Linked DNA regions of Homo sapiens. The protein of the gene in region 1 purifies or fractionates together with the protein of each later gene. This does not show direct contact. Each region holds a gene or a part of one and is shown in the gene's direction. Other genes may lie near its edges.

What was found. The genes of interacting proteins can lie anywhere in the genome.
Region 2: the proteins of TRAFD1 (region 1) and BTBD1 purify together in Homo sapiens (affinity purification with mass spectrometry; 2 studies listed by BioGRID and IntAct, with this or other methods). This does not show direct contact.
Region 3: the proteins of TRAFD1 (region 1) and ASPM purify together in Homo sapiens (affinity purification with mass spectrometry; 3 studies listed by BioGRID and IntAct, with this or other methods). This does not show direct contact.

What each region holds. Positions count from the first base shown.
Region 1 is NC_000012.12:112,149,560-112,154,137, forward strand, and holds the end of TRAFD1 (TRAF-type zinc finger domain-containing protein 1), read left to right. Parts: intron 1-191; coding exon 192-312; intron 313-2,241; coding exon 2,242-2,581; intron 2,582-2,867; coding exon 2,868-2,940; intron 2,941-3,175; coding exon 3,176-3,232; 3' UTR 3,233-4,045; downstream 4,046-4,578. UniProt on the Homo sapiens protein: Negative feedback regulator that controls excessive innate immune responses. Regulates both Toll-like receptor 4 (TLR4) and DDX58/RIG1-like helicases (RLH) pathways.
Region 2 is NC_000015.10:83,036,247-83,043,279, reverse strand, and holds part of BTBD1 (BTB/POZ domain-containing protein 1), read left to right. Parts: intron 1-1,354; coding exon 1,355-1,552; intron 1,553-7,033.
Region 3 is NC_000001.11:197,094,664-197,101,696, reverse strand, and holds part of ASPM (abnormal spindle-like microcephaly-associated protein), read left to right. Parts: coding exon 1-1,266; intron 1,267-5,532; coding exon 5,533-5,699; intron 5,700-7,033. UniProt on the Homo sapiens protein: Involved in mitotic spindle regulation and coordination of mitotic processes.

The sequences.
Region 1 (4,578 bases):
GTCAGTGCCTCATGTGCCGATGGGATTGAATGCAACCATTCCAGATGTGTGGTTTCTGAAAGTTCCCAGAACTTTCAGAGGTTGTCAAAGTCCCCCTCCAGATGAGGAATACACTGCTGTTCCTCCCATCGCATGCTCTTTTCTGGGAATGACTCAATTCAGAGGTACTAATTCTGGTTTTTCTTGTTTAGGACCAGTGTGACCAACGCCCAGCCACTGCAACCAACCATGTGACAGAGGGGATTCCTAGACTGGATTCCCAGCCTCAAGAGACCTCACCAGAGCTGCCCAGGAGGCGTGTCAGACACCAGGGTATTTATTAGCCAGGACTCAGCCAAGGCCGCAGGTCTACTGCTGGCTCCGGCCTGTTTACCACTTCCCATCCACTGCTCTAATGTGGGGATTACCTGCATCTCAAATTTCCAAACACACTAGGGTCTCATAGGGGACTCCTCTGCAGGTAGTTGTGGTCCCACATTAGACTGAGCTCTCTCAAGTGTGTGATTTTTAGGGTAATGGCTTTGCGGACATCCATGAGATACATGTAGTAGTAAGTGCTTGTAATAAGTTTCTGGTTTCCTATCTGTGCACTTAGTGGATTATTTGTAGATAATTTGCAGACCTTATGGTAGCTACCCTGGGCCCCCATTTCAAGTTGAAATACACTTAGGGTACTCAAACCTATTATTATTATTTAATTTTTTTGTAGAGACAGAGTCTTGCTCTGTCACCCAGGCTGGAGTACAGTGGCACAATCATAGCTTACCACAGCCTCAAACTCCTGGGCTCAAGTGATCCTCTCTCCTCAGCCTCCCAAGTAGCTGGAACTACAGGCACACTCTACTACACCCAACTAATTTTTTTGTTTTTGTAGAGATAGGGTCTTGCTATGTTGCCCAGGGTGATTTCGAACTCTTGGCCTCAAGTAGTCCTCCTGCCTTGGACTCCCAAAGCATTGGGGTTACATGCGTAGGCCACTGTGACCGACCTCAAACTTATTTATTTAATTTATTTTTTTTAGACAGGGTCTCTTTGTCATCCAGGCTGGAGTGCAGTGGCGTGATCACTGCAGTCTCAACCTCTTGAGCTCAAGTGATTCTCCCACTCTTAGCCTCCTGAGTAGCTGGGACTATAGGTAGGCTAGGTGCCCACCAACACACCCAGCTAATTTTTAATTTTTTTTTGTAGAGTTGGGGTTTCGCCACATTGTCCAGGCTGATCTTGAACTCCTGGGCTCAAGTGTTCCTCCCAGCTCGGCCTCCCAAAGTGTTGGGATTACAGGTGTGAGCCATCACACCCAGCCTCAAACTTATTATTATTACTTAAGACCATCATGTTTAGGCAAGTAAACTGTTTTTGAAACCTCACCACTACAAAGCCAATTAGAAATTATTTTTTGGCTGGGCATGGTGACTCACACCTGTAATCCCAGCACTTTGGGAGGCTGAGGTGGGCGGATCACAAGGTTGGGAGTTCAAGACCAGCCTGGCTGACATCATGAAACCCCGTCTCTACTAAAAATACAAAAATTAGCCGGGCGTGGTGGCGGGCGCCAGTAGTCCCAGCTACTTGGGAGGCTGAGGCAGGAGAATCACTTGAATCCAGGAGGCAGAGGCTGCAGTGAGCCAAAATCATGCCATTGCACTCCAGTCTGGGCGACAGAGCAAGACTCCATCTCAAAAAAAAAATTATTTTTCAAGGTTTGCTTGCACACTATTGTTGAATAGTTAGGAGGCTGTCTTTGAGGACTCAGATAATATGTGCAGAATTGATAAAATATCCCCATCTCTGCCCTGGAGATGTGGGTTCCAGCAGCCTTTTGGGGTGAGCAGTTGTCTTTTTTTTTTTTGAGACACAGTCTTGCTCTGTCTTGTCCAGGCTGGAGTGCAGTGGCATGATCTTGGCTCACTGCAGTCTTCACCTCCTGGGTTTAAGTGATTCTCCTGGTCTCAGCCTCCTGAGTAGCTGAGACTATAGCTGTGTGCCACCTCACCTGGCTAATTTTGTATTTTTTTTTTAGTAGAGATGGAATTTCACCATGTTGGCCAGGCTGGTCTCTAACTCTTGACCTCAGGTGATCCCCGCACCTCGGCCTCCCAAAGTGCTGGGTTTACAGGCATGAGCCACCACGCCTGGCTGAGCAGTTGTCTTCTATCTGGAATCTTTTTGTTCCTGCCCTAAACCTGGCACTATAGCCAGAGCAGGCTTTTTCCTAAAGCTGTTACCATTTTCTCTTCTCAGGAGACCTGTCTTCTGGTTACCTGGATGATACTAAGCAGGAAACAGCTAATGGGCCCACCTCCTGTCTGCCTCCCAGCCGACCCATTAACAATATGACAGCTACCTATAACCAGCTATCGAGATCAACATCAGGCCCCAGACCTGGGTGCCAGCCCAGCTCTCCTTGTGTGCCGAAGCTCAGCAACTCAGACAGCCAGGACATCCAGGGGCGGAATCGAGACAGCCAGAATGGGGCCATAGCCCCTGGGCACGTTTCAGTGATTCGCCCTCCTCAAAATCTCTACCCAGAAAACATTGTGCCCTCTTTCTCCCCTGGGCCTTCAGGGAGATACGGAGCTAGGTAAGAATCAGTAGCCCAGGAATGGGGCTTGGGAGTAGCTGAAGCGAACATGGGCAAAGGCCTGGTTACCCTTGCCAGGCCTGGGGTAAGACTGAGGTACTTGCATGGTAAGGGGAGGAGTATGGATTTTCCCTGTATTGTCACCTGACTCCAAAAAAATTATTTTGTGGCCTATGGGTTTTTTGGGGTTTGTCTGCTAGCATAGGACTGCTTCCTGTTCCCTCTGAGTTTGTTGACCTTTGCTCAGGGACACTTCAGGAGCTAGTTTCTAATTGTTTTCTTTCAGTGGTAGGAGTGAAGGTGGCAGGAATTCCCGGGTCACCCCTGCAGCTGCCAACTACCGCAGCAGAACTGCAAAGGTAAGGTGGGCTCCAGCCCATGATGCTCAGTGGGGGACTCAGACATGGTGGGGCTTGTGTGGCTCCTGAAGTTGTAGAAGTTGTTGGGACCAGGCTGGTTGTGGTTCAAAGATTGTTCCTTTGGCTTTTGAGAAGGAGGTTTCTAAGGAAGCGGGACATTTTCGGGGATCCAGGGGAGGAGTAATGCTTTTTCACTTTTTATGTAAAGCTTCGTTTGTGTTGTGTTGTTCACCAGGCAAAGCCTTCCAAGCAACAGGGAGCTGGGGATGCAGAAGAGGAAGAGGAGGAGTAATGGTGTCTCCAGAGACTTTACATCGGTTCCTGTCTTCTGTGCACAGCAGCACTTGCCGCTGTGCAGGCCCACCTCTTTGGCTCTTTGGGTGGGAGAGTTTTTCCAGATTTTAGATTTTTCTAGGTTATGGCCATTTTGTGTCTTTTGAGGTTGTGCTGTGGGGGTTTGGGTTTGAGGGAAGGGAGCAGGGTGGCGGTTGAGGAACGCTTCAGCCTTAGCTGCTACCTTTCGGCAGCAGTGAAATACAAGCTGCAGCCTCGGCTGCCAGGGCTCCCTTTTGACTTATTGTCGCCACTGCCCCTTGGTGCTGTGTGGTCCCAGTGGAAGGAGGGGAAGATTTTGGAAACCTGGTAGCCACCAGTAAGGTGATTCTCTGCCCTGTTGGGGCCTAAATTTGGGGGCTTTTGGGCAACCTCTCCGTGTACTGCGTCTGTCCACACTCGATTGGGCCCCAGGTGTGTATGAGGCGCTCTGGTAAGGTGCTCAGGCCAGTTGCAATGTCTGTCAGTAACGAGGCTTTTGATGTGTTGAGCTGGAGGTGAGTGGACCGGGGGCTGTGTTTTAAGCTGCTTCCTTGGCATTTGGCATCACTGCCTTCTGTTCCCGGGGGAGCATGGATCTTTTGTCCTCACTGCTTTCTAATGGGGAGGGCTGAGGGCTCCCTGTCCCCACAGCAGGTATGTTGGGCTCTGCCCCAGCCCCACACTTGCTCTGAAAACCAAGTGTCAGAGCCCCTTCCCCTTGTTTTTATTTTACTGTTATAATAATTATTAACTTCCTTGTAATAGAAATAAAGTTTGTACTTGGAGTTCAGCTCAGTCTTGTGGTTCCTTCTCCTGTGTGCTTTAGAGACTGCAGGGAGGGCAGGGTAGGCTGGAGTCAGCCCTGGGGTTGGAGGAGGTGAGCAGGGCTGGGCTTTCTCCGGCACTCCAGTAACCCTCGCAGCTCCACCATGAGTCCCTTCTTGGAGTACACAGACATTGAACGTGTAGTGTTTTAAATTGGACTTCTGAGAAAACTGACAGGCTTGCTGCAGCTCCGGTGATGACTGGGGCTAGAAGGGGTGCCTCTGACTGAATAGAGAAAAGCAGATTCTTCAAAAGCCTTCATCCTGAGAGGAGTTGAGCCCTAGCAGGATTAGCTGTTACCCCTCAGTGCCTCCGTCTGCATAGGACCACTGAGCACCGTAGGTCATTTTGAGTTCCTTTGTTCTTCCAACAACCTGTTGGGGTGGGAAAGGTGGGAGGAACTGCCCTATTTCATAGATGGAACACTAGACACGGGAACCATGCGGCCAGTTCTTTGCAGAGGCAGGTCTCTGAAAAGAATTATCCTGAGAGAAAAAA
Region 2 (7,033 bases), on another chromosome or scaffold:
ATGAGAGCCTTTGTACTTTTAGTCCTGGAATACTATTCCTCTAGGTATCTATTTGGCTTACTCCCCCACTTCCTTCATGTCTTGGCATAAGTGAAGCCTGCCTAAACCACCCGATTTTATTTTATTTTATTATTTTTTGGCACAGTCTCACTCTGTTGCCTGGGCTGGAGTACAATGGCATGATCATGGCTCACTGCAGCCTGCAACCTCCCAGGCTCGAGTGATCCTGCTGTCTCAGCCTCCTGAGTAGCTGAGACTACAAGTGCATGCCACCATGCCTGGCTAATTTTTAAAAACTTTTTTGTAGAGATGGGGTCTCACTATATTGCCCAGGCTGGCCTGAAACTCCTGGGCTCAAGCCATGCTCCTGTCTCAGCCTCTTAAATTGCTGGGACTACTGGCATGGGTCACCATGCCTGGCCCCTTCCTATTTTAAACTGCATTTCTGATTCTCCTTAACCTGACATATTTGCCCATGTATATCATCTAAGATACTCGAATTTACTTGTGTTTATTTAATCTGTTTCTCCTCATTAGAATGTAAGCTCCATGAGGGCAGGAATTTTTAACTTTTTGTTCAGTGATATATCAGTGCTGGCTGGGCGCGGTGGCTCACGCCTGTAATCCCAGCACTTTGGAAGGCCGAGGCAGGCAGATCACTTCAGGTCGGAAGTTTGAGACCAGGCTGGCCAACATGGTGAAACCCTGTCTCTACTAAAAATATAAAAATTAGCCAGGTGTGGTGGCCCGTGCCAGTAATCCAAGCTACCCAGGAGGCTGAGGCAGGAGAATTGCTTGAACCTAGGAGGCAGAGGTTGCATTGAGCCGAGATTGTGCCTCTGCACTCCAGCCTGAGCAACAGAATGAGACTCTATGACTCTATATCCAAAATATATACATACATATATATATATATATATATATATATATAAAATTGCCTAATAGTACCTGGCACGTAGTGCTTAATAATAAATATTTACTGAATGAACGAATGAATTATAATCTGTAGACTTTAAGAATTTATGTAATTGGAACCTTTTTCTGTGGCTTGTTAATCTTATTCTGGATAGTTGAGTTTACTTGATAAATGGCATAAATATATAAGGAGAGTACTGTATCTTAATATTGCATGTATGGTAAGTAATAAATTGATTGTTAAACTGATTTTTATGGAACACTTTGGAGTTTAAGTCCTTTAATTATTTAGTATTTTAAAGTATAAAGTCTGTAGTTTTAAGTGTCTAACCTATTTTTTGTTGAGATCTGAAAACTTAATATAAGTGTGTCTGTTGGTATTGCTTGGTTAGAGAGCTAAAATATTTCTAATTGGGTTTATTTTGTATTTTGCCTATAGATACACTCTGTGCAGTTTTAGAGAGAGACACACTCAGTATTCGAGAAAGTCGACTTTTTGGAGCTGTTGTACGCTGGGCAGAAGCAGAATGTCAGAGACAACAATTACCTGTGACTTTTGGGAATAAACAAAAAGTTCTAGGAAAAGCACTTTCCTTAATCCGGTTCCCACTGATGACAATTGAGGAATTTGCAGCAGGTAAGGGTATAAATTCACCAAAATCTATTTGAAACTGTTTTAATAGTCTGTCAGGGCTGGGCCTGGTGGCTCACACCTATAATCCCAGCACTTTCGAGAGGCCAAGGCAGGTGGATCACTTGAGGACAGGAGTTCGACACCAGCCTTGTCAACATGGTAAAACCCCGTCTCTACTAAAAGTACAAAAAATTAGGCATGGTGGTGGGCACCTGTAATCTCAGCTACTCAGGAGGCTGAGGCAGGAGAATCGCTTGAACCCAGGAGACGGAGGTTGCAGTGAGCCGAGATCATGCCGTTGCATTCCAGCCCGGGCGACAGAGCGAGATTCCACGAGACTCCATCTCAAAAAAAAAAAAAAATTCTATCAGTCTCCCTGCGCCAGAGAGGAAAAGAAGCTTTTATTCAGTACTAATCACATGACAAACATATATGCGAGTGTATGATTTTAAGCCCTTCAAAATTATATTATCCACATTGTATAGGTTAGAGAAGTAAAGTTGGGAGAGGTTGAGTGCCTTACCCCAGGTTATGACAGATCTTTTTGGCTTTTTTTTTTTTTCTTTTTTTTCTTTTTTTGAGACAGAGTCTTCCTCTGTTACCCAGGCTGGAGTGCCGTGGCACAAACGCATTTCACTGAAGCCTCCACCTCCCAGGCTCAATCAATCCTCCCACCTCAGCCTCCCAAATAGCAGGGACTATAGGTGCACACTACCATGCTCAGCTAATTTTTTAATTTTTTTTATAGAGACAGGATTTCACCATCCTGTCAGGGCTGGTCTTGAACTCCTGGGCTCAAGCCTCCCAAAGTGCTGGGATTACAGGTGTAAGCCACCACGCCCAGCCTCTGTTTGACTCTTAAGGTCGATGCTTCTGATTAAAATCAGACAGATCTGTTTTGAGTCTCCATGACCACTTCTGACCTGTTTTCATTACCCAGGTCATAATTGACTATTATCTGCCTTTAAATCACGGCCAGATTGATTCAAAAGAAAGAAAAGTCTCATGGTTTTTTTTTTTTTTTTTTTTTTGAGACAGGGTCTCCCTCTGTTGCTCAGGCTGGAGTGCGGTCGTGCGATCTCAGCTCACCGCAACGTCCATCTCCTGGGTTCAAGCGATTCTCACACCTCAGCCTCCTGAGTAGCTGGGATTACAGGCGTGCACCGCCACAAACTAATTTTTGTATTTTTAGTAGAGACAGAGTTTCACCATATTTGTCAAGCTGGTCTTGAACTCCTGACCTCAGGTGATCTGCCCACCTCGGGCTCCCAAAGTGCTGGGATTATAGGCATGAGCCACTGTGCCTAGCTCTCATGATTTTTTAAAAAATAATTTCAACTTTTATTTTAAATTCGGGGTAACGTGCAGATTTGTTTCATGTGTATATTGTGTGATGCTGAAGTTTGAGGTACAGTTGATTGCATCACTTAGGCAGTGAGCATAGTGTCCAGTAGTTAGTTTTTTAACTCTTTTCCCCCTTCTGTCCCTTCCTCTTTTCCCCTTTTTAACAGTCCTCAGTGCTTATTGTTTCCATCTTTATGTCCATGTGTATCCAATGTTTAGCTTCCACAAGTGAGAACATACGGTATTTGGTTTACTGTTTCTGCATTAACTCACTTAAGATAATGGCTTCTAGCTGCATCCATGTTGCTGCGAAAGGCATGATTTTGTTCTTTTTTATGGCTTTATAGTATTCTGTGGTGTGTGTGTGTCCGTGTGTGTGTGTGTGTGTGTGTGTGTGTGTGTCACATTCTCTACCCAGTCTACCACTGATGGGCACCCAGGTTGAGTCAGTGTCGTTGCTGTGATGAACATATGAGTGCATGTGTCTTTTGGTGGAACATTTTCTTTTCTTTTGGATATATAACCAGTAATGGGATTGCTGGGTTGACTGGTAGTTCTATGTTTTTTGGTTTTTTTGGGAGGTTGTTTGTGGTTTTTTTTTTTTTTTTTGAGACAGAGCCTCACTCTGTCACCCAGGCTGGAGTACAGTGGTACAATCTTAGCTCACTGCAACTTCCACCTCCTGGGTTCAGGCAATTCTCCCACCTCAGCCTCCTGAGTAACTGGGACTACATACGCCCGCCCGCCACCAAGCTTAGCTAATTTTTGTATTTTTTGGTAGAGATGGGGTTTCACCATGTTGTGCAGGCTGGTCTTGAACTGTTGACCTGAAGTGATCCACCTGCCTCAGCCTCCCAGAGTGCTGGGATTACAGACATGAGCCACTGTGCCCAACCTTGGTAGTTCTGAGTTCTTTAAAAAATCTCCAAACTGCTTCCCACAATGGCTAACCTTATCTACATTCCCACCATCAGTGAACACGAATTCCCTTTTCTCTGTAGCCTTGCCAGCAACTGTTTTTTTTATTTTAATAGGCATTCTGAGGAGTATGAGGTGGTATCTCATTGTAGTTTGGATTTGCATTTCTCTGATGATTAGTGATGTTGAGGATTTTTTTCATGTTTGTTGGCTGCTTGTATATCTTCTTTTGAGAAATGTCTGTTCATATTTTTTGGCCCACTTTTTATGAGTTTTTTTTTTCTTATTGAATTGTTAAAATTCCCTGTAGATCCTGGATATTAGACCTTTGTCCAACACATAGTTTGTGAATATTTTCTCCCATTCTATAGGTTGTCCATTTGTTGGGTTGATAGTTTCTTTTACTGTGCAGAAGCTCTTTAGTTTAATTAGGTCCTACTTGTCAGTTTTTGTTTTTGTTGCAATTGCTTTTGAGGACTTTGTCATAAATTCTCTCCCAAGGCCAGTGTCCAGAAAAGTATTTCCTAGGTTTTTTTCTAGGATTCTTATAGTTTGAGGTCTTACTTTAAATCTTTAATCCATCTTGAGTTAATTTTTATGTATGGTGAAAGGTAGGGGTCCAGTTTCATTCTTCAGCATATGGCTAGCCAACTTTCCCAGCACCCTTTACTGAATAGAGGGATCTTTCCCCATTTTGTCAAAGATGAGGTGCTGTAGGTCTGCAGCTTTATTTCTGGGTTCTCTTTTCTGTTCCATTGGTGTATGTGTCTGTTTTTGTACCAGTAACATGCTGTTTTGGTTACTGTAGCCTTATAGTATAGTTTGAAATCCAGTGGTAATGTGATGCCTCCAATTTTGTTCTTTCTGCTTAGGATTGCTTTGGCTATTTAGGCTTTTTTTTTGTTCCATGCATATTTTAGAATATTTTTCTAGTTCTGTGAAAAATGATGTTGGTAGTTTGATAGAAATAGCATTAAATCTGTAGATTGCTTTGGGCAATATGGTCATTTGAACGATATTGAGTCTTCCAATCCACGAGCATATAATGTTTTTCCATTTGTTTGTGTCATCTGTGATTTCCTCCAGCAGTGTTTTATAGTTCTCCTTGTAGAGATCTTTTACTTGGTAAAAATATATCTAACCAAGATGTATGGATGTAAAAATACCTGGTAGAAATACATCTTAGTTAGATGTATTTCTAGGTATTTTATTTTTTGTGTGGACATGGTAAATGGGATTGCATTCATGATTTGGCTCTCAGCTTGAACGTTACTGGCGTATAGAAATGCTGCTGACTTTTGTACATTAATTTTATATTCTGAGGCTTTATTGAAGTTCTTTATCAGTTCCAGGCGCCTTTGGTGGAACTTTTTTTATTTTTTTGAGATGGAGTTTTCTTGTTTGTTGCCTAGGCTGGAGTGCACTGGCACGAGCTCAGCTCACTGCAACCTCTGCCTCCCGGGTTCAAGAGATTCTCCTGCCTCAGCCTCCCGAGTAGCTGGGATTACAGGTGCCTGCCACCGTGCCTAGCTAATTTTTGTATTTTTAGTAGAGATGGGGTTTCACCATGTTGGCCAGGCTGGTCTCAAACTCCTGACCTCAGGTGATCCACCCTGTCTTGGCCTCCCAAAGCGCTGGGATTACAGGCGTGAGCCACCGCACCTGGCCTGGTGGAATCTTTAGGGTTCTGTAGGTATAGAAGCATATCATCTGTGAAGAGAGATAGTTTGACTTCTTTTCTTATTTGGGTGCATTTTATTTCTTTTCCTTTCCTGATTGCTCTGGCTGGGACTACCAGTACTATGTTGAATAGGAGTGGTTAGAGTGAGCATCCTTGTCTTTTTCTAATTTCAAGGTGAATGCCTCTAGCTTTTGCCCTTTCAGCATGATGTTAGTTGTGGATTTATCATAGATGGCTCTTGTTATTTTGGGGATATTGTTTTGATGCCTAGTTTGTTGAGGGCTTTTATCATGAAGAGATGCTGGATTTTATTGAATGCTTTTTCATGTCTATTGAGACAGTCATATGGTTTTTATTTTTAACACTATTTCATGATTGTTTTGAATTGTATTACTTTTTATTTTTCGATTTTATTTTAGTTTTAAAGATGAAGTCTTGCCATGTTGCTCAGGCTGGCCATGAGCTTCTGGGCTCAAGTGATTCTTCCACCTTCACCTCTTAGCCAGTGTGCCTGGCTGAATTGTATTTCATTATGCTTATTGGCCTATTTATTTTCCTTTACATTATTCATGTCTTTTGTTGTTCTGTTGGTGTGTTCAAATTTTGTTTTACTGGTTTATCTTACATTGATTCTTTGTATATTTATTATTATACCAAATTTTTTTTTCTGACTTATACTTGTTCCAATTTTCTCCAAGATTGTTTTTGTTTTTGCTGATAAGAATCAGTGTTTGGGTTTTTTTTAAATAAACTTTTGAAATTAAAGTTTAACATCCATATAGTAAAATTAACAAATAAAGTGAACATACTTATTTAACCAATTTATCCTACTGTACTAGTACCCCAGAAGCCTTTGTCATGACCCTCTAAGTCACTAATCTCCCTCTGAAAGGTGACTACTTTCTGTCTTCTATAAATTAGTTGTGTCCATATGTAAACTTTATATAAAGGAAATCATATATATGGTGTGTATTCATTTTTGTGTGGCTTCTTTCTCTTAACATTACGCCTGTTAGATTCATCCATGTGGTTGAGTGTGGCAGTAGTTCATTCTTTTTCATTGCTTTATAATATTCTGTTATACAACTGTGCCATGATTTATCCATTTTACTGTTGTTGGATATATGGATTATTTCTGTTTGGGGACCATTGAGGCCATTCTTGTACGTGTGATTTGGTATACATACGTAAACATTTCTGTTGGATATATACGAGTGGAATTGCTAAGTCATGGAGTGTGCATATGGTCGGCTTTAGTAGATCCTGCCATCCTGCCAAACAGTCCCTTAAAGTGGTTGTAACAGTTTACACTCATCAACAAAGTGAAGAGACATAAGAGTTTGTTTTGGTTGCCCACATCCTCTCCAATACTTGGTATTGTCAGTTTTTGTAGTTCTAGCCATTTGTGTGGATGTGAGGACGTATTTCATTTTGGTTTTAAATTTCATATCACGGATGATTAATGATGTTGAATATGCCAATAATTTTTTAATCCAGTCTGACAGACTTTGTCTTTTATCTGAACTGTTTTGGTTCACTTG
Region 3 (7,033 bases), on another chromosome or scaffold:
GCTGCAAAATTACAAAGAGAAAATTATATCAGACAATGGCATTCTGCTGTGGTTATTCAGGCTGCATATAAAGGAATGAAAGCAAGACAACTTTTAAGGGAAAAACACAAAGCTTCTATCGTAATACAAAGCACCTACAGAATGTATAGGCAGTATTGTTTCTACCAAAAGCTTCAGTGGGCTACAAAAATCATACAAGAAAAATATAGAGCAAATAAAAAGAAACAGAAAGTATTTCAACACAATGAACTTAAGAAAGAGACTTGTGTTCAGGCAGGTTTTCAGGACATGAACATAAAAAAACAGATTCAGGAACAGCACCAGGCTGCCATTATTATTCAGAAGCATTGTAAAGCCTTTAAAATAAGGAAGCATTATCTCCACCTTAGAGCAACAGTAGTTTCTATTCAAAGAAGATACAGAAAACTAACTGCAGTGCGTACCCAAGCAGTTATTTGTATACAGTCTTATTACAGAGGCTTTAAAGTACGAAAGGATATTCAAAATATGCACCGGGCTGCCACACTAATTCAGTCATTCTATCGAATGCACAGGGCCAAAGTTGATTATGAAACAAAGAAAACTGCAATTGTGGTTATACAGAATTATTATAGGTTGTATGTTAGAGTAAAAACAGAAAGAAAAAACTTTTTAGCAGTTCAGAAATCTGTACGAACTATTCAGGCTGCTTTTAGAGGCATGAAAGTTAGACAAAAATTGAAAAATGTATCAGAGGAAAAGATGGCAGCCATTGTTAACCAATCTGCACTCTGCTGTTACAGAAGTAAAACTCAGTATGAAGCTGTTCAAAGTGAAGGTGTTATGATTCAAGAGTGGTATAAAGCTTCTGGCCTTGCTTGTTCACAGGAAGCAGAGTATCATTCTCAAAGTAGGGCTGCAGTAACAATTCAAAAAGCTTTTTGTAGAATGGTCACAAGAAAACTGGAAACACAGAAATGTGCTGCCCTACGGATTCAGTTCTTCCTTCAGATGGCTGTGTATCGGAGAAGATTTGTTCAGCAGAAAAGAGCTGCTATCACTTTACAGCATTATTTTAGGACGTGGCAAACCAGAAAACAGTTTTTACTATATAGAAAAGCAGCAGTGGTTTTACAAAATCACTACAGAGCATTTCTGTCTGCAAAACATCAAAGACAAGTCTATTTACAGATCAGAAGCAGTGTTATCATTATTCAAGCTAGAAGTAAAGGATTTATACAGAAACGGAAGTTTCAGGAAATTAAAAATAGCACCATAAAAATTCAGGTATTTCTATATTTAATTTAAATATAAAACTGTGAGTCTTTCTTTTGACCAATATTTGTTAGAATGTATAAAATGAGCTTAAGCAGGTCATAAAGAATAGTACTTAGTTGAGGTGACCATTTATCTTCCAAAGTGGAACATTTTTGAAAGAGGGAAAGGGCACTAGTAAGTCAGCCAAGACAGCACAGAACGGGGATTGTTCTGGCCATGGTCACCCTATGTGTGGTGCATTTCAGTATGGGTTAATTGTAGCACTCTTAGAAGAATTTTGAGAAAATAGGAGTCCTGTATTTGGCAAAGTTATTTCTTTAAGTGGAAAATATAAGCTAAGATAAAGTATTATTTGGCATAATATAGGCAAAATAGAGTAACTTTGTTCCTCTAATAATCTATTAACCAGAGCTGTTTGCTGCTTAGGCTAGTAGACATACTTTATTCTGAGTGTTTAGTACTTTGGCTTCCAAATCAATTTTGTATTATTTTGTTTTGTCTATTTGCCAAATGTGTGAGGAATGTACAGTATTATCTCTTTTAAAATATGAAGGAAGTGATAAAGTTTAAGTAATTTGGCCAATGTTGCATAGAGAGAGGCAGATCCAGGAACTGAATCTAAGTACTTCAGCTATTTCTTTTTACCTGCAATAACCCAGGCTTTAACCCAGATGTGATATGTTCATATCTTACTGGATTACTGTTAAATTTAGAAATAATGTTTTAATTCAAGAAATGTCAAGTGCTAGAAATGTGCCAAATGCTGTAGTGGGTGTTATAAATAGACAATGAGTAAGATATACTTAGTTGCTGTCCTCAAGGAACTTAATTGAACAAGGAAGTATAATTATAATACAACATGAGAAGTGTATGTTTCAGGAAACACAGAATGGGAAATCAAGCTAGTCTCCATGGTCAGAGACTTCCCAGAGTGAGTAACATTTAAGTTGAAATGTTACACTGAAGTATGAATTAGAAATAGCCCAGTAAAAGGTATAGAAGAATATTCCAATTGCAAGAGATAACGTGGAAAAATCAAAAAACTAGAAACAATAAAAAGTGATATGGGACCAGGTTGGCAATAGAGGGAGTAAGATTGTGGATAGATTTTTAAGACAGAAAAAATTTAGTCTTTATGCTCCAGACAAAACAAATTCTAGAGGAGTTTAAGCAGGAGAAGACCACAGTCATTTTTATTAAAAAAAAAAAAAAAATTACTCTGGCAGGAATGTGGAAGATGGACTGGAAAAGGAGCAAGACTAGAATCAGGTAGACCAAATGAAAATAGGCAGTAAGCCAGGTGAGAAAGAGTTATAGTTCAGTGTAGGTTTGTGACAATGGGATTGTAAGTTGGCATTATATAGAGCATGAACAAGGAGGCAAGCCATGTTGATGGCTTAAGTAACTCAGCAGAGTTACTCCCTCACACCCTGACATAGGGAATAAAGAGGGAAGAGCAGGTTTTGAGATTGATGATGAATTCAGTTTGGAGTATATAAGATCTGAAGTACCTAGCAGGTAACCCCCTTGAAATATCTAGTAAGGCAGTTGACTATGTTTGTCTGGAGTTCAGGAGAGTAGTGTGAGTATTAGAATTTGATTTGTACATTATGGGCATATGCTAATAATTAAAGTTCTGGGAATAATGAGATCACCAAGGAACAATACATAAAATGAGTGAACAAAGAGGGCCTGGGACTTGAGCCCTGAAGAACATCAAAATTCACAGACATTGACAAGAGAAGCCAACAAGGTGTTAAGAGGGAAAGAAGAAAGGTAAGAGATTAATGGTATCAAGAAACCAAGGTGTTAAGAGGGAAAGAAGAAAGGTAAGAGATTATGGTATCAAATTCCTAACACTACTGAGAAGTTCACAATTGAAAGGTGTTCATTGGATGTATTAGTTATGGTTTTATTCACTTAAAATGATTAAATAGCCAAAATAACAATCTTATAAAAATTTTTTTCTCTTACATAATTACATAATAAAATTGTATTTTACACATATAATTTTTAGCCTATGCCAGTGGTCTAAAACTTTACTGCATATTGGAGTCACCTGGAATTTTAAAACATACTCCTACCTTTAGATATTCTAATTGGTATGGGAAGCAACACAAGCGTGGGATTTGTTTCAAAGCTCCCAGGTGACTCTAATGAGCAGCGAAGTTTGGGAGCCACTGGGATATAGTATACATTACTAAATACTTACATATATATGTAAATATGTATGTTTTATATATATATATATATCAACTTCTCTGTAGCATTTGGGATTTAAGCACACTTTGTTTCTTCTCTCAACCCTTGGTTTCTTGATACCATAATCTCTTAGCTGTCTTCTTTCCCTCTTAACGCTATGTTGGCTTCTCTTGTCAATGTCTGTAAATTTTGATGTTCTTCAGGTGTGATGTGTGTGTGTGTATATATATATATATTTGTAAATATATATATACACACACGTATATCTATACATATATATAATTTTCTCATTAAAACTTTGTTTTAATGGGTCTCAAAATTCTGTGACAGATTTTCGGTCAATTTGTTTTCATTAAAAAGTACTGATTTTAAAAACTAGTAACTTATAACTGCCACAAGCAAAACAAAAACAAAAACACCAAAATGGTCCACAAAACATTCTCCTTTCCTCCTGAAGGTTTTATGATGCAGTGTTACCATTAACCAGTCTTTTACTGTTACAGTTAAATGGCCAATTGAAACAAACAGTTCTGAGACCATTCTTCTACCACTGATTAAGACTGAGGTGGCAGGTATTGGGGATATACATAAATAATGTATGCAGATTTACATAAAAACCGTATACAATATAGTCTGAATGAGTTAAGGTCATCTCAGAGTAATTTTGGCCATATATAATTATTGCATTATCAACTGAATTTAGAACCTAATCTAAATATACGTTGTGCCTATAGTATTTGTTGTGCTGCGGGATAATTAAGGAATCAGAGAGACCGAGGGATTTGAGGAGGAATTATTTAATTATTTATGTGCACCGACCCAGTCGGATTAACATCCAAAGAGGACTGAGCCCTGAACAAAGAGTCAAGCTACCTTTTAAGCATTTCGTGGGGCATGGGGAGATCTGTGCAGGGGGAAGCGTATTACAGAAGAGAGAAACAAAGACAGTTATTCAAGTAAGAGATGCATTACATTATTTCTTACTTTTTAAGGAACAACATGTTTTACAACTTGAGATTATCTGTCTAGTGTCCTTGCAGCTGCACAGCTAGAGAAACAGTCTTCACAATGCCTGGGAAAGGGAGAGATAAGGCTCACTAGCCACAGAGAGAAAAACACAGTTAATTTTAAAGGACTCCAGCCCTTTCTCTTCCCAAGGGGAATTGGGTTTTCTTACATACAACTGAGTTTTTGCTTACACAGTCTTTAATTTCTTTTAATTCCTCTTCCTGTAGGGATGTTGGAGTCAAATAGACTTGGGTTCAAATCTTGACTCTGTCACTTAACAGCTATATGCTAACAAGTCCTTCTTAATTTCAATTTTGGATTTTTTTCCTTTTTTATAAAACAGAGATCTTAACCATTTTATAAGATATTTATAAATATTAAGTAAGACAACTCTGCCACTTATTAACCTGTGTGACATCAACAAGTTACTCAATTTCTCTAGGCCTTGATTTCCTCATCTCTAAATTAGAGATAATAGTATTATCTACCCATGTGATTATTAAGGACTAATCTTCTTAGTGCTTAGTTCAATAAGTTGTAGCTGTCATGTAAACCTTTAGTCTTCCAGAAGGTTGTCAAAATCAGAAAGTCTGACAGTCCTATCACAGGAGCTCTCAGGATTCTCCTGCAGGCTGAACACAGAACCCAAAGTGAATATGGATTGGGAAGAATTCCTCTTTCTCCCCAGAACCTGCAGTAGGTCAATGTGTTCATTTTCTTTTCTTCCAAATGGATTGAGGTGATGAGGATAATTTACATAATGTGGGGCTTTTCAGACATGTGTGTCTTACAATTTATAAATACTGGTTAGGGTTTTGTTAGGCTGGGCTGGCAGCCAGCCATAAGGTATGTGTGATAAAGCACATAATACGTGTTCACTATAGTAAGCACCACTGTTCTCAGAAGACTCATTACATGTCAAAGTCTAAAAGAGTCATGATATGACTATGCAATTTATTTTTGTCTGCACTAACCTTATTTTAACTGTCTTTATACTGATTTGTCTTATTTACAAAAAAAAAGAGACAACTCATTGCATACTTGTTATATTTATGTATTTAATAGGCTATGTGGAGGAGATATAGAGCCAAGAAATATTTATGTAAAGTGAAAGCTGCCTGCAAGATTCAAGCCTGGTATAGATGTTGGAGAGCACACAAAGAATATCTAGCTATATTAAAAGCTGTTAAAATTATTCAAGGTTGCTTCTATACCAAACTAGAGAGAACACGGTAATGTATCATAGTTCTGTGGAGAGTGTAAAAGTATTTGTGTGTGATAGCTAAGTCTTTACATAAAATAACACTGCTTATTGATTTTTATTTTAAATATTTGTTATGCTTAATTTATATGGTTGGTTTTGTTGATATTTTCTTTATTAAGGAAACAAAATACATCTCTCGTACTGTCTTGCTTTTTTGAGATAGAGCATAGCCTTTAATTAATATAATCTAAAAATATTATATACTTGATTAATTCAGGTTCATAAGGATTAGAGTAAGGACAGAGACGTAGGAAGTGAATAAAATCATTTAGTTAAGACTTGGTTTTCTTATTAGTGCTTTGGGCCATTTTGCTGGGTGACTTAACTACTGGCAAAATTTGTTTTCTTACTCATTCTTTTTTTCTTTGAACTTTGTATTATTCCTCATACTCTTTGTCATTAATGATGAAGACCCTAATTACCAACCTGTCTATGCTAATTGTATTTCACTATTCCTAGCTTATTTCTCACACACACATTTTCAGAAGCTGTTACCAGATCATCTTTTTTTAAGTTCATAGTATAAGAATTTTTCTTCAGCTCCCAGAGTTGATGAATTATTGAATCAATGATGGTTTTAAAGATGGTTTAGGAAGGCACACTAGTGTGAGAGGAATTTTTGGATGAAGCCCATGGGTAGAAGCAGGGCTTAACATATACAGTTGATCGCATGAAGATAGAAGTAGAATGTTGGTTACCAGAGGCTAGGATAGGGAGAGGGGAGGGGTGGATAACGACAGGCTGGTTAATGGGTACAAAAATACAGTGAGAAGGAATAAGATTTACTGTTTAGTAGCACAATAGGGCAACTATAGTTAACAATAATTTATTGTATATTTCAAAATAACTAGAGGAATAGAATTAGAAGTTTCCTAATAGAAGGAAATGATAAATGTTCGAGGTGATGGATATCCCATTTACCCTGATTTGATCATTACTCATTGTGTGCTTGAATCAAAATATCACATGTACTCTGTAAATATTTACAACTATTATATATCCATAAAAATAAAAATTAAAAAGCATATAAAGATACAGTTGCTACTATCAGCTATTAAGGACCAGTATCTAATTTTCCTGTAACAGATGCTGAATTTTTCTCAATGGTGTTTGGTCCTATTTTCTAAGAAACATGGCAACAAAACAAGCTACTCATTGTACTTTTTCCACATTATCAAGAACAGAGTAGAAAACCTGTCCATTCTCACATTTTATCTCTTAGTATTATGTTGATCCCTAAAATTTAATCTCTAGTGCTCAGATTTTTTAAAATTTTTCTCCAGTTCTGTTTACGAAATATCT